Linked DNA regions of Homo sapiens: region 1 is linked to region 2. Evidence: fine-mapped expression QTL. A gene starts in region 2. The other region holds a variant in brackets. All regions are shown on one strand. Distances are from middle to middle.

Evidence for each region. PIP is the estimated chance that this variant, and not a neighbour inherited with it, causes the effect. A credible set is the group of variants that fine-mapping cannot tell apart.
Region 1: its variant is the best candidate, but not a certain one, in a credible set for the expression of DCSTAMP in hypothalamus (GTEx, PIP 0.88).

What each region holds. Positions count from the first base shown.
Region 1 is chr8:104,313,669-104,319,047 of GRCh38, forward strand. It overlaps LOC107986899 (a long non-coding RNA gene), which reads right to left. Exons shown (of 3, transcript XR_001745732.1): 2 at 5,135-5,234. Among named protein-coding and RNA genes, the nearest start is that of DCSTAMP, 23 kb to the right of the region's middle. The variant C/A (reference allele first, on the strand shown) is at 2,633.
Region 2 is chr8:104,336,827-104,342,205 of GRCh38, forward strand. It overlaps DCSTAMP (dendrocyte expressed seven transmembrane protein), which reads left to right and starts at 3,000. Exons shown (of 4, transcript NM_030788.4): 1 at 3,000-3,036.

The DNA.
Region 1 (5,379 bases), 23 kb before region 2:
CTAAAACATCAAAAGCAATGGCAACAAAAGCCAAAATAGACAAATAGAATCTAATTAAACTAAAGAGCTTCTGCACAGCAAAAGAAACTACCATCAGAATGAACAGGCAACCTACAGAATGGGAGAAAATTTTTACAATCTACCCATATGACAAAGGGCTAATATCTAGAATCTACAAAGAACTCAAACAAGTTTACAAGAAAAAATCAAACAACCCCATCAAAAAGTGTGCAAAGGATATGAACAGACACTTCTCAAAAGAAGACATGTATGCAGCCAACAGACACATGAAAAAATGCTCACCATCACTGGCCATCAGAGAAATGCAAATCAAAACCACAATGAGATACCATCTCACAGCAGTTAGAATGGCAATCATTAAAAAGTCAGGAAACAACAGGTGCTGGAGAGGATGTGGAGAAGTAGGAACACTTTTACACTGTTGGTGGGACTGTAAACTGGTTCAACCATTGTGGAAGACAGTGTGGCAATTCCTCAAGGATCTAGAACTAGAAATACCATTTGACCCAGCCATCCTATTACTGGGTATATACCGAAAGGATTATAAATCATGCTGCTATAAAGACACATGCACACGTATGTTTATTGCAGCACTATTCACAATAGCAAAGACTTGGAACCAACCCAAATGTCCATCAATGATAGACTGGATTCAGAAATTGTGGCACATATACACCATGGAATACTGTGCAGCCATAAGAAAGGATGAGTTCTTGTCCTTTGTAGGGACATGGATGAAGCTGGAAACCACCATTCTCAGCAAACTTTCACAAGGACAGAAAACCAAACACCACATGTTCTCACTCATAGGTGGGAATTGAACAATGAGATCACCTGGAAACAGGGAACAGAACATCACACACCAGGGCCTGTAGAGGGGTAGGGGGCTGGGGGAGGGATAGCATTAGGAGAAATACCTAATGTAAATGATGAGTTGATGGGTGTAGGAAGCCAACATGGCACATGTATACATATGTATCAAACCTGCACATTGTGCACATGTACCCTAGAACTTAAAGTATAGTAAAAAAAAAAAAAAAAAAGAGCTGAGTCTGTGGCATTCTATTACGGCAGCTGGAGCTGACTGATACATTGCTCCATTTGATAGTTCTCCCAGGCACTGCCCCAGGCCTCACTCACTGCCCCTGTGTCATCTCTCTTGACTCATGTCTCTGAATGTCAGTGTGTAACACCTATGCAGTAATTTTCATTCTCAGTTTCGGTAGGTAGGTGATATGGTTTGGCCATGTTCCCACCCAAATCTCATCTTGAAATGTAGCTCCCATAATTCCCATGTGTCGTGGGAGACACCTGGTGGGAGTAAATTGAATCATGGGGACGGGTCTTTGCTGTGCTGTTCTCATGGTAGTGAATAGGTATAAAACCATCAAGAGATCTGATGGTTTTATAAAGGGGAGTTCCCCTATACAAGTTTTCTTGCCTGCCGCCATGTAAGACGGGATTTTGTTCCTCCTTCCCCTTCCACCATGATTGTGAGGCCTCCTCAGCCATGTGGAACAGTGAGTCAATTAAACCTCTTTCCTTTATAAATTACCCAGTCTTGGGTATGTCTTTATCAGCAGTGTGGGAACAGACTAATACAGTAGGCATAGTTTGTTAGGCTTCTATCAGCTGGCTGGTGTGGCCTTTGATGCCCACGGCATGGGGCAGCTAGGTAAGGGGTTGATGGAAACAGAGGGAAGACTGGGTTCCAGCAGCTGGTTTGAGCCATGGTTGCAGAGAATGGGAAAGAGGATCATGTAGACATTAGGCAGCTCACCTGCAAAGCAGCTTGATGGAAAAGCTCAGTTCATTCTTGAAATTCTTACTTATTTTAGTAGGTTCAGAAACGGAGAATGGGGGAGAATGACATTTCTTAGATTTTCCCTCCTTGGCTTTCTCCTGGATACAGCTTCCTTTCCTTAATGGATATCCTTATGTCCCTCTCTCCTATGGTACTTTCCTTCCTCTTCTAGCTCTCCACTGGCTTCCTGATCTTGCCTAGATAACAAGAGTTAAAGCTGCAAAGAGAACTAGGTGTTGAGCACCTCATTGTTTTGGACTCTGTGGCCGTTGCTGTGGATGAGATTGACTTAGGAGTTTACATTCTTGTGTTTTGGAGGCAGAAGATAAACAAACAAGGAAACTATCGGAGTGTAATGTGCTGATAATTAAAATGAAGAGATGAGAGTGCAACTGCGTGCTCCATCAGGGGATGGCTTTAGATTGGGTGGCTTTTGCTGCAGCTCTTGTGGTGTTGAGGTTGGGGGGGAGTTGACAATTTATGATCCACAACACCATTAATCAGGTTGAGAAAGTATCAGATACACCGCAGAGTTCTGCAATTTTGACTCTAAGTTACACAAAAAGTAAGTTTTCTTATCTATACCAGACAGAGGGTGTAACCAGGCCTTGTTAGAAAATGAATAAACAGTGATTCCAAGTGCCATTTCCTTTGTCTGTTTAGAGAATTTTTAGTTATCACAAAGCTTTCTTATGAGGTCTTTGATAAGGCAATGGCATGGTATTAAAAGCTATTATCTAAGAAAACAAAACCAATAGATGCATATTTTACCTGATGCTATCTTTAAGTGGCAGACATCGAGGGACA[C/A]TGGAAAGTAACTTGGGATATTAAAGCCAGGCACTGTCCCTTGGGCCTCAGCCCTAAGTCCAGGGTGTCCTTTCAGGTGGGGCACCTTTGTAGAAACATCCTCTTGCCCCAGGGGCAAGTTGCTGAGGGCCAGGAGGATTCAGTCCTCCAGGTCTTGGAGGAGCTCCAAGCTCTTGGCCTTGGAGGTGCTCAGAGGTAGCCCTTGGTATGGAGCTCTCCCTGGAGAGGAGTAGGGGAGGGAGCTGGGGAGAGGCATGGGTGGGGAGCACAGGTGGTGCAGGAGCAATTGGAGCATCCAGACCCTCCCTCCAGAGGTGGCTGGACAGAAGGTTTGGATCTTGTTGCTAATGTGCATTCCAGGACCAGCACACTGACCTTAGGCTCAGGAAGGGACTTACTGGTCAATTGCTTCTTTTGCGGGGCCTGTCAGGATTTGAAATGAAGCAGAAGCTCTTATAACATTCAGCCATAAATCTAAATCTTTTTTTTTAACTCAAGCAAAATAGTGAGATAACTTGACATTTTGCATGCTTAAATTTAGAACAGATGACAGAAATTGAATACTCATGTCATAAGCTGCTTCATTTAAACAAACACACAGAACCAGACTCTGCTTCATGTGACTTGGATCTTGAGAATGCTTCATCCTTTGCCAAAATTTAAAATCCTTAAGGTGGCTAATAAATATGGGCCTGAGAATGAGGTCACCTGACCTCCAGGCCTGGCTCTTGGTTGGCTGACAAAGCCACCCGTCTGGGCCTCAGTAAATCCTTCTCTGAGATGGCCTGGTGTGGTGGCTTTTGTGCCCAGAGGGCACACACAGTCCAAAATGAGCACACACAGTGGTGAGGACACACCTCAGGGTCTGGGAGCATGTGAACAGGGGAATATATGAGACTACCTTACAATTTATGCCTACTATGTCTAATAATGGTTGTCAATAACTGCTGGAAGCATGCTTTGCTTGTCTTTTTTTTTTTTTTTTTTTTTTTTTTTTTTTTTTTTTTTTTTAGAGACAGGTTCTCAGTTCATCACCCAGGCTGGAGTGCTGTGGCAGGGATCACAGGTCACTGCAGCCTCTAGTGTAATCACTCAGTGGGTTCTTCCTGCCTACTGTACAGAAAAGACCAGTTCACTGAGACCATGATACTGCAATTAAGAAAGAGTTTAATTGATGGGAGGCTGGCCATGTGGGAGATGAAGTCATCACTCAAATCAGTCTCCCCAAGAACTCAGAGGCTGGGGTTTTTATGGACAATTTGGTGGGCAGAGGGGCTAGGGAATGGGAACTGCTGATTGGCTGGGGATGAAATCACAGGGGTGTGGGAAACAGTCTTTGAGCATTGAGTTTGCCTCTGAGTGGGGGCCACAGGATTGGCTGAGTCATGAGTCATGGGTCCAGGTGGGGTCTATCTATAGGAGCAATTGGGAAAGTCACAAATCTTGTGCCCTCTGATTATATGACTCCTGAGCACTTAGGGATTATAGAAACTATGTCTACATTTTAGCAGAATTCAGGTCCCTCCCATAATCCTAATCCCATAGCCTTTCATTAGTTTTTGGTCCCTGAGCAAGGAGGGAGTTAGTTTTAGGGAGGGACTATTATTATCCTTGCTTCAAGGTTAAATTCCTTCCATGATTAGCTTGGCCTATGCCCAGGAATGAGCAAAGCCAGCCAGCCAGCCTGAGAGGCTAGAAGCAAGATGGAGTCAGCCATGCCATATTTCTCTCACTGTCATAATCTTTGCAAAGGCAGTTTCACCAACTCCTGGGCTCAAGAGACCTTCCTGCCTCAGCCTCCTGAGTAGCTGGGACTACAGACATGTACCACCATTCTGGCTAATTTTTAAATTTTTTCATTGAAACAGGATCTTGCTATGTTGTCCAGGCTGGTCTCAAACTCTTGGCCTCAAGTGATCCTCCCACCTTGGCTCTCCAAAGTGCTGGGATTATAGGCCTGAGCCACAGCACCTGGTTTACTTTGCCTGTCTTAAATCTCCCAAGTCTCATGACAACCTTATGAGGTATTACCATTTTACCAATAAGGATTCTGAAGCTCAGAAAGGTTAAGTAACTCATCCAGGTTCACACAGCTGTAGGTAAGGACCCATGCATCTGAGTGCACACGCCTGCCTCGTAGTCTCTGAGCACTTTCCATCATCACTGAATGGAAGGATGGGAATGGGATGGAGCTAGTGATTCTGATCCACAGACACTCCCCACTGGGAGTGATCATCTCTGGTTCTGTGTCAGCACTGGAGAGAGAGTTACTTGCTGGAGGGCAGGAGAAGGCATGAATGGAAAATGAAATGATTGATTCAATTTAGAAAAAAAATTATTGCTCCACCACCATGAGCAAGGTACAGTGTTTTAAAATTTCCCTTTCGAGAACAAAATGAATCTAATGGAAGAAAAAAAGAGAGGCAAAGGGAGCCCAATAATTTGGGTATAAACATTCCAGTTTAAATTACCTTTTCTTCTTCAAATATCACCTTTTCTCACCTTTGTGGGAAGACCCTATAATTTTAGATTTATCTCAACTATTGCTCCCAAGGCTGGCTGGGGTTGTCAGTCAGGACCATCTGTGCTGGAACGAGGTTTCCTGCAAAGACACGATTTTCACTTACTAAGAGCTATACATGACATCATGCACTTTCAACAGGAACTTCTTCACTTTTGCATGTCTTTTCTTTTCCTGCCTAAACAGATGCCTGCCTGTTATTCTACAAGAAAAACAATGGTGAGGC
Region 2 (5,379 bases):
TATTCAGGAAAGACTGTAACAATTATTTTAAAAATAGAGATGTGGTCTCACTGTGTTTCCCAGGCTGGTCTCAAACTCCTGGGCTGAAGGGATCCTCTTACCTTGGCCTCACAAAGTGCTGGGATTACAGGTGTGAGTTACTACACCTGGCCATAGCAATTTTTAAGGGGTTAAAAGCTACTAAAGGGACAAAGCGACAAGTCTTGTCTATGTCAGGCCATGCTGCTTCACAAAACACCCTCTCTCTATGCTGGTTTTCTAGAGGAGTTCCTGGGCTGGGTGAGTCATGGGTCTGAAGTGAGCCTAGTGTTATCTGTGCTTCTGTGACTCATCAAACCTAAAACCACCTCTGCAGGACAGAGATTCCTTGATGGCAAGAGAAAGAACAGAAGATGCTCCTGACCTTAGGGTCATACAGTAATTTCAGCAGTGACTACTCCTTGCTGGGCCCCTGAGGCAGAATCCCAGAGATGTCCTGGAAGTTCAGGCCCTGACTTCATTTGGTCAATGGCGTTGGCGTTAAAATCAGGATGATTCCTGTTTCTCAGGCCCTCTTAACCAACCATTGCTGTTCTGAGGCTATTCTTCTGAGAAGTGCAGGTGGATACTCAAAGAGTCCAGCTCACTAACTACAGACTTTCAAAGTAATTAAACAACATTTGAGCTGATCAGGTTAAAATTCCCAGCTGAGCATAGCTTTTCCATTCTCTGAGTTCTCTAGGAGTGCAGGAAAGAAATCTTGCAGCACCAGCTGAATCTCATCTGCCTATATCACAGCCCCTCCACCTTAAGTTGCACCAATTTGTAGGGGTCTCTGAGTTTTAAACCCAATTGGCCTCTCCCTTTCTTTCTTTCTTTTTCTCTTTCTCCCTTTCTCTCTCTCTCTTTCTCTCTCTCTCTTTCTTTCTCTTTCTTTCTTTCTCTTTCTTTCCTTCTTTCTTTCTTTCTTTCTTTTTCTTTCTTTCTTTCTTCTTTCTTTCTTTCTTCTTTCTTTCTTTCTTCTTTCTTTTTCTTTCTTTCTTTCGTGTATCAAGTTTACTACCTACCTCCTGGCCAAACCGGGCCACATGGTTAAGCCCAGATTCAAATTGGGTGGGAACTACAAAGTTACAAGGCAAAGGTCATGCATACAGAGAGGTCATTAATTGGGATCTACCACTGCAGGGTGGTAAAAGAGAATGAAAACTGATATGGTGGGGAATACCTTAGCATCTACTAAGGGAGTAATCAGGAAGATATGAGATATCCTGTGAAGGCTTCCCGAAGGAAGGAGAGGAAGGGAAGACCATTTCAGTTGGAAGAAGGATACATTATGGGAATAAGTCATTTTACTGGAGATATGAACACTTATGTAACCAATTCCCAATTGATAGACATGTGGGTTGTTCTACATATTCTCTATTACAATCAATGCTGATCTGTGTATCTAGCTATCCAGCTGGCATAGAGAGGCATATGGTGGATTTGTACACACACGTACACATACACATACACACTGCACACACATACCATGCAAATATAAGATAAATTCTTGGAATGACTAATTCTAGTAGCTTATAAATTTGTATAGGTATTGTCAAATCAGCCTTTTTCTTTCACTCCCAAGTTGGGAATTGCTGGGGACTCTCAAAACCATGTCACTGACTCCATTTTTGGTTGTGGGAGCTGGGAGCCCCTCCATTTCCTCTTCCCAGTTCTTTCTTCTGCAGCTGCCCCCAGGTTTGTTCTCCATGATCCAGCAACTTCTGTCTCCATCCCCCGTTCTCAGAAGGCTCCATCTCCTCCTTCCCCAAGAAAGTTGCAACTGCCCTCAGCTTTCCTCCCTCCCTCCTCAGGGAGTACCAACATCTCTCTCTTATCTTTATTCTTCTTTGTGAGGCTGATATGCTAAATTTCATCTAGTTTTCCCCAAACTCAAACCACTACCTCTCTACTGCTGCCTTCTCCCTCTCCATTTCCATCCCTAGCACTACTACAAAGGAACCCCATCCAGTCCAGCCGGTTGGCTTGCTCCTCCCCTCCTCCCACTCCAGTTCACGCTCCAGCCCACTGAAGAGTGGTGCCCACCCCTAGGCCCCTGCCTAAATGGCTCTTCCAGAAACACCAGTGACTTCCCACTCACCAAAGTCTGGGGCCGTTTCCTCAAGATCCTGCCCACTCCCTGACCCTTCCCTCCCTTGGGGCCACCATGGCTGCTTCTGGATGACTCAATCAGACACCCACATTGCAGTCCCATCCTTCCTGTTCAAATGAAAACATCTCATTTCAACAGCTCTCTTCATCTTCAGGACTAAGTCAGCCCCTTACACAAAGGACTCATGAGGGACATGCAGTCTGTGTGCCCAGCCTGAGCCCAAGGGTCTATTCTGATCCTTTTTTTTTTTTTAAGATAAAGGTTTTTGCAGGTATAATAGGGGTCTCCAACAAAAAGTAAAGAATAATTTTGTAGAAAGATTTTGAGACTTTCCTAACTCTCCGAAACTACACAAGCTGGTCCTTTTGACTTGGAAGCTAAATTTCTAAGATGGAAAGTCACATGTATGAGTGGGAGGCATGAAACCAATTATTCGACCTGTCTGGGGTCATGAGTGCAGAGGCGGCTCCTACGAACCATCTGCCTCTTCAAGTGTGGATGAGAGGTGGGTATGGCGGATGCTTGTCATTTCCCAATGGCTCGAGTGGATGTGGGGAGTATGGGAGTGAGGGCAAAAGAGAAAAGAGGGAGAGAGGCCGTCCAAGCTTTCACAACTCACTCTCTTGTGTTTGAAAATATCTGATTTCATTATTTTCTATAATTAATTTCTAGAACATCTATTCTGAGGAAAATGCTAGAAAGAAATATGCTATTCATTTGTATCAGCATTACTCTTTGTTGATATTAAATGGCTCAGTCACTTTATGGGGGAAATAAAGAGGTTGATTCATGGTGATGTGACCCTCTCGACACTTCTGGTTCCCTTTTTCCTGCTATATATCAAGACCTACAGCCCTTGGGAAGTGCATTTCTGCATTCGAAGAAGAATCTGAGAGAAACCTGTAAGTAAACTTTCAGAATAATCTTATTTCTAAAATTGCTTTTAAAAAAGTACTAGTAAATTGGAATAAACAATTGTGACCAGAGCATACTTTAAGGCCCCCTATACCCCGACAGTCTCCCTATGTATGGAAGTATCAGAAAGTCTTTTCATGTTGGTATCTGAATATCCTCTGCTCAGGGAAAACTGCAGCATGAATATCTTCTTATGGGTGTAGCCTGGGTATACGCGAGCCACCCTTCACTTTATGAATCCCCTCAGCTAATCCTCCTGGTGGTTATGGGGAGCCCTAGGCTGGCTCAGTCCTGCCTGGCCAACGATGCAGCTCCCGGCACCTGGCACACGCAGCAATGGGCTGAATTGTTCCGTAAATGCTATTCTGTTTACCTAGTAGCGTTCATTAATCTTTCCTTTCTTGTGTGAAGGCTGCTTTCACAGAGGAAGGCATTTGCTGGCTTTCCCAAGGCAAGAACAATGAAAACAAAGTCATGAGGAGTTCTCTCTACCTCAAATGAAGGCCGCAGCTCCTGCTCAAGCTATTTTGGCAGTCTGAGAGAACAGTACATTCTGAACCACATTGTAAGTTTGCAAGAGCTTATACAAAAAAGAAAGGGAGAAAAAAGGAAAAGGAAAAGAAACCCTCCATTCTTCTTTTGTTCCACTCCCAGGTGCTGGGCTTTGATGTTCTGTCTCAGAAGTGACTGCAGAACGCCAGCTCCAAGAACCAGCTCCGCTGCTCACTGCACCTTTCATTTCAGAGAGCATGGGGCTAGTGGGGACCTTAGAACTCAGCTAGCCCATAGGAGCTGAGGTCCAGGAGGTGACATGACCTATCCAAGGCCACGCAACCTGGCTTGGGTAGAGGCAGGTTGGACCACAGGTCTCCGTTTGGCGCTCTTTTCCTGTTCTGCTCTGTCCTTTGATCAAATTCCTTTTAAAATGAGATTCACATCAAGCCAGTGAGGGAGGCTGATGGGTTCAGACTGGGTTCCCGCAGGGGACCGGCAGGGCTGGTTGAGGAGTACAGAAAGAACAGAGTGCTTGTCCGTTTGGGTTTATTGTCCCCTGGGGTGTCTGCAGACTATATCTGGGCTTGTTGAGCATAAGCCATTGGCTTCTGCACAGGCAGAGTCAGAATGAACTGGTGTCACTTAATGGGAATTGCAGGACATCAGATGAGGCAGGAGCTTTGGAAATGGGGAGAGAGGGGAGCAATAAGATGCTCCCAAGGTCATTGTCTCCTGGCCTTTCCTCCAGAGAAGGTCACATTTCTTCCTCCCACACTTTCAATAGCAGTAAGCCTGTGGGTTTCTGCTTACCAGCTCTGGAGACACATGGGTGATGTGCAGCTTCAATACCCCTCCAGTCTAGAAAGCTCCTAGGGTGGGCCATTCATGTGGAGATTCTCATTATTATTTCATGGCTCCATTTTTTGTAGCTTCTGACTGGACCTTGTATCTGAAGCAAGGACACATTCATCTGCACCTTGAAAGTTGATCTGTGCTCAAAAGACAGTGCTCAGGAATGCCGGTCTCCTTCACTCATCAAAAAGGTGGCCAAACAGAGCTCTGTGGGTGGGGGCTGTGAGCCCTGTGCCCTCCATGCTGGGGCTCTCAATGCTCCCACTGACACTGAGATCCCATGCAGGGAAAACGATTGAGGTGTATGTACCTTGCAGAGGTGTCTGCTAGCTAGCATGGGCAGGGTTGATGTGGAAGTCTGGCTGTTTCTGTTTCCCATGGCAACAGCTTGGCCCTGCATGAAAGCAGGTAAATGTGGGCTCAAGCCAGATGCACAGACTGCATGGCTCTGCAGGGCTCTCAGCTCAAATCAGGGCTCTTCATCCCTAACCCTGTTCTGCTATTTTCCTGTTCCCTTCCACTCAGCCACAAAAAGGGCTTTAACCCCATGAAAGAGAGATGGGGCCCTTGGTGGTACTCTGCTGTGGACTGCTAAGGCTTCCCTGCCTGAGGTGTGGTAGAAACTGCAGTTCTGAGATAAAAGCAAGAGAGTGGCCATTACTCTAGGGATAGTGCTGTTGGTAAAAGCCAGAAACAGGTATTGTATCCTGGGGACACAAGCATGTTGAGTCAGGAATAGACATTATTGACAATGGAGGCAAAATAAAGAGAAATTACAGGTTAAAGGGATCAGGTAAACTTTTAGATGCTGCCAGAAAAAAACGATGGAGAGGCAGAGGGAGGGACTCTGTAAGCACAAGAGAGGGGAATAAAACAGTTAGAAATCTTTGGGCAAAAATAAACATTTCCGAGGTATAGAGGAAAACCTTTATTTGTGAGACTGGAACTTGGTTTAAGCATGGCTTTTAAATGTCTCCAGGGAT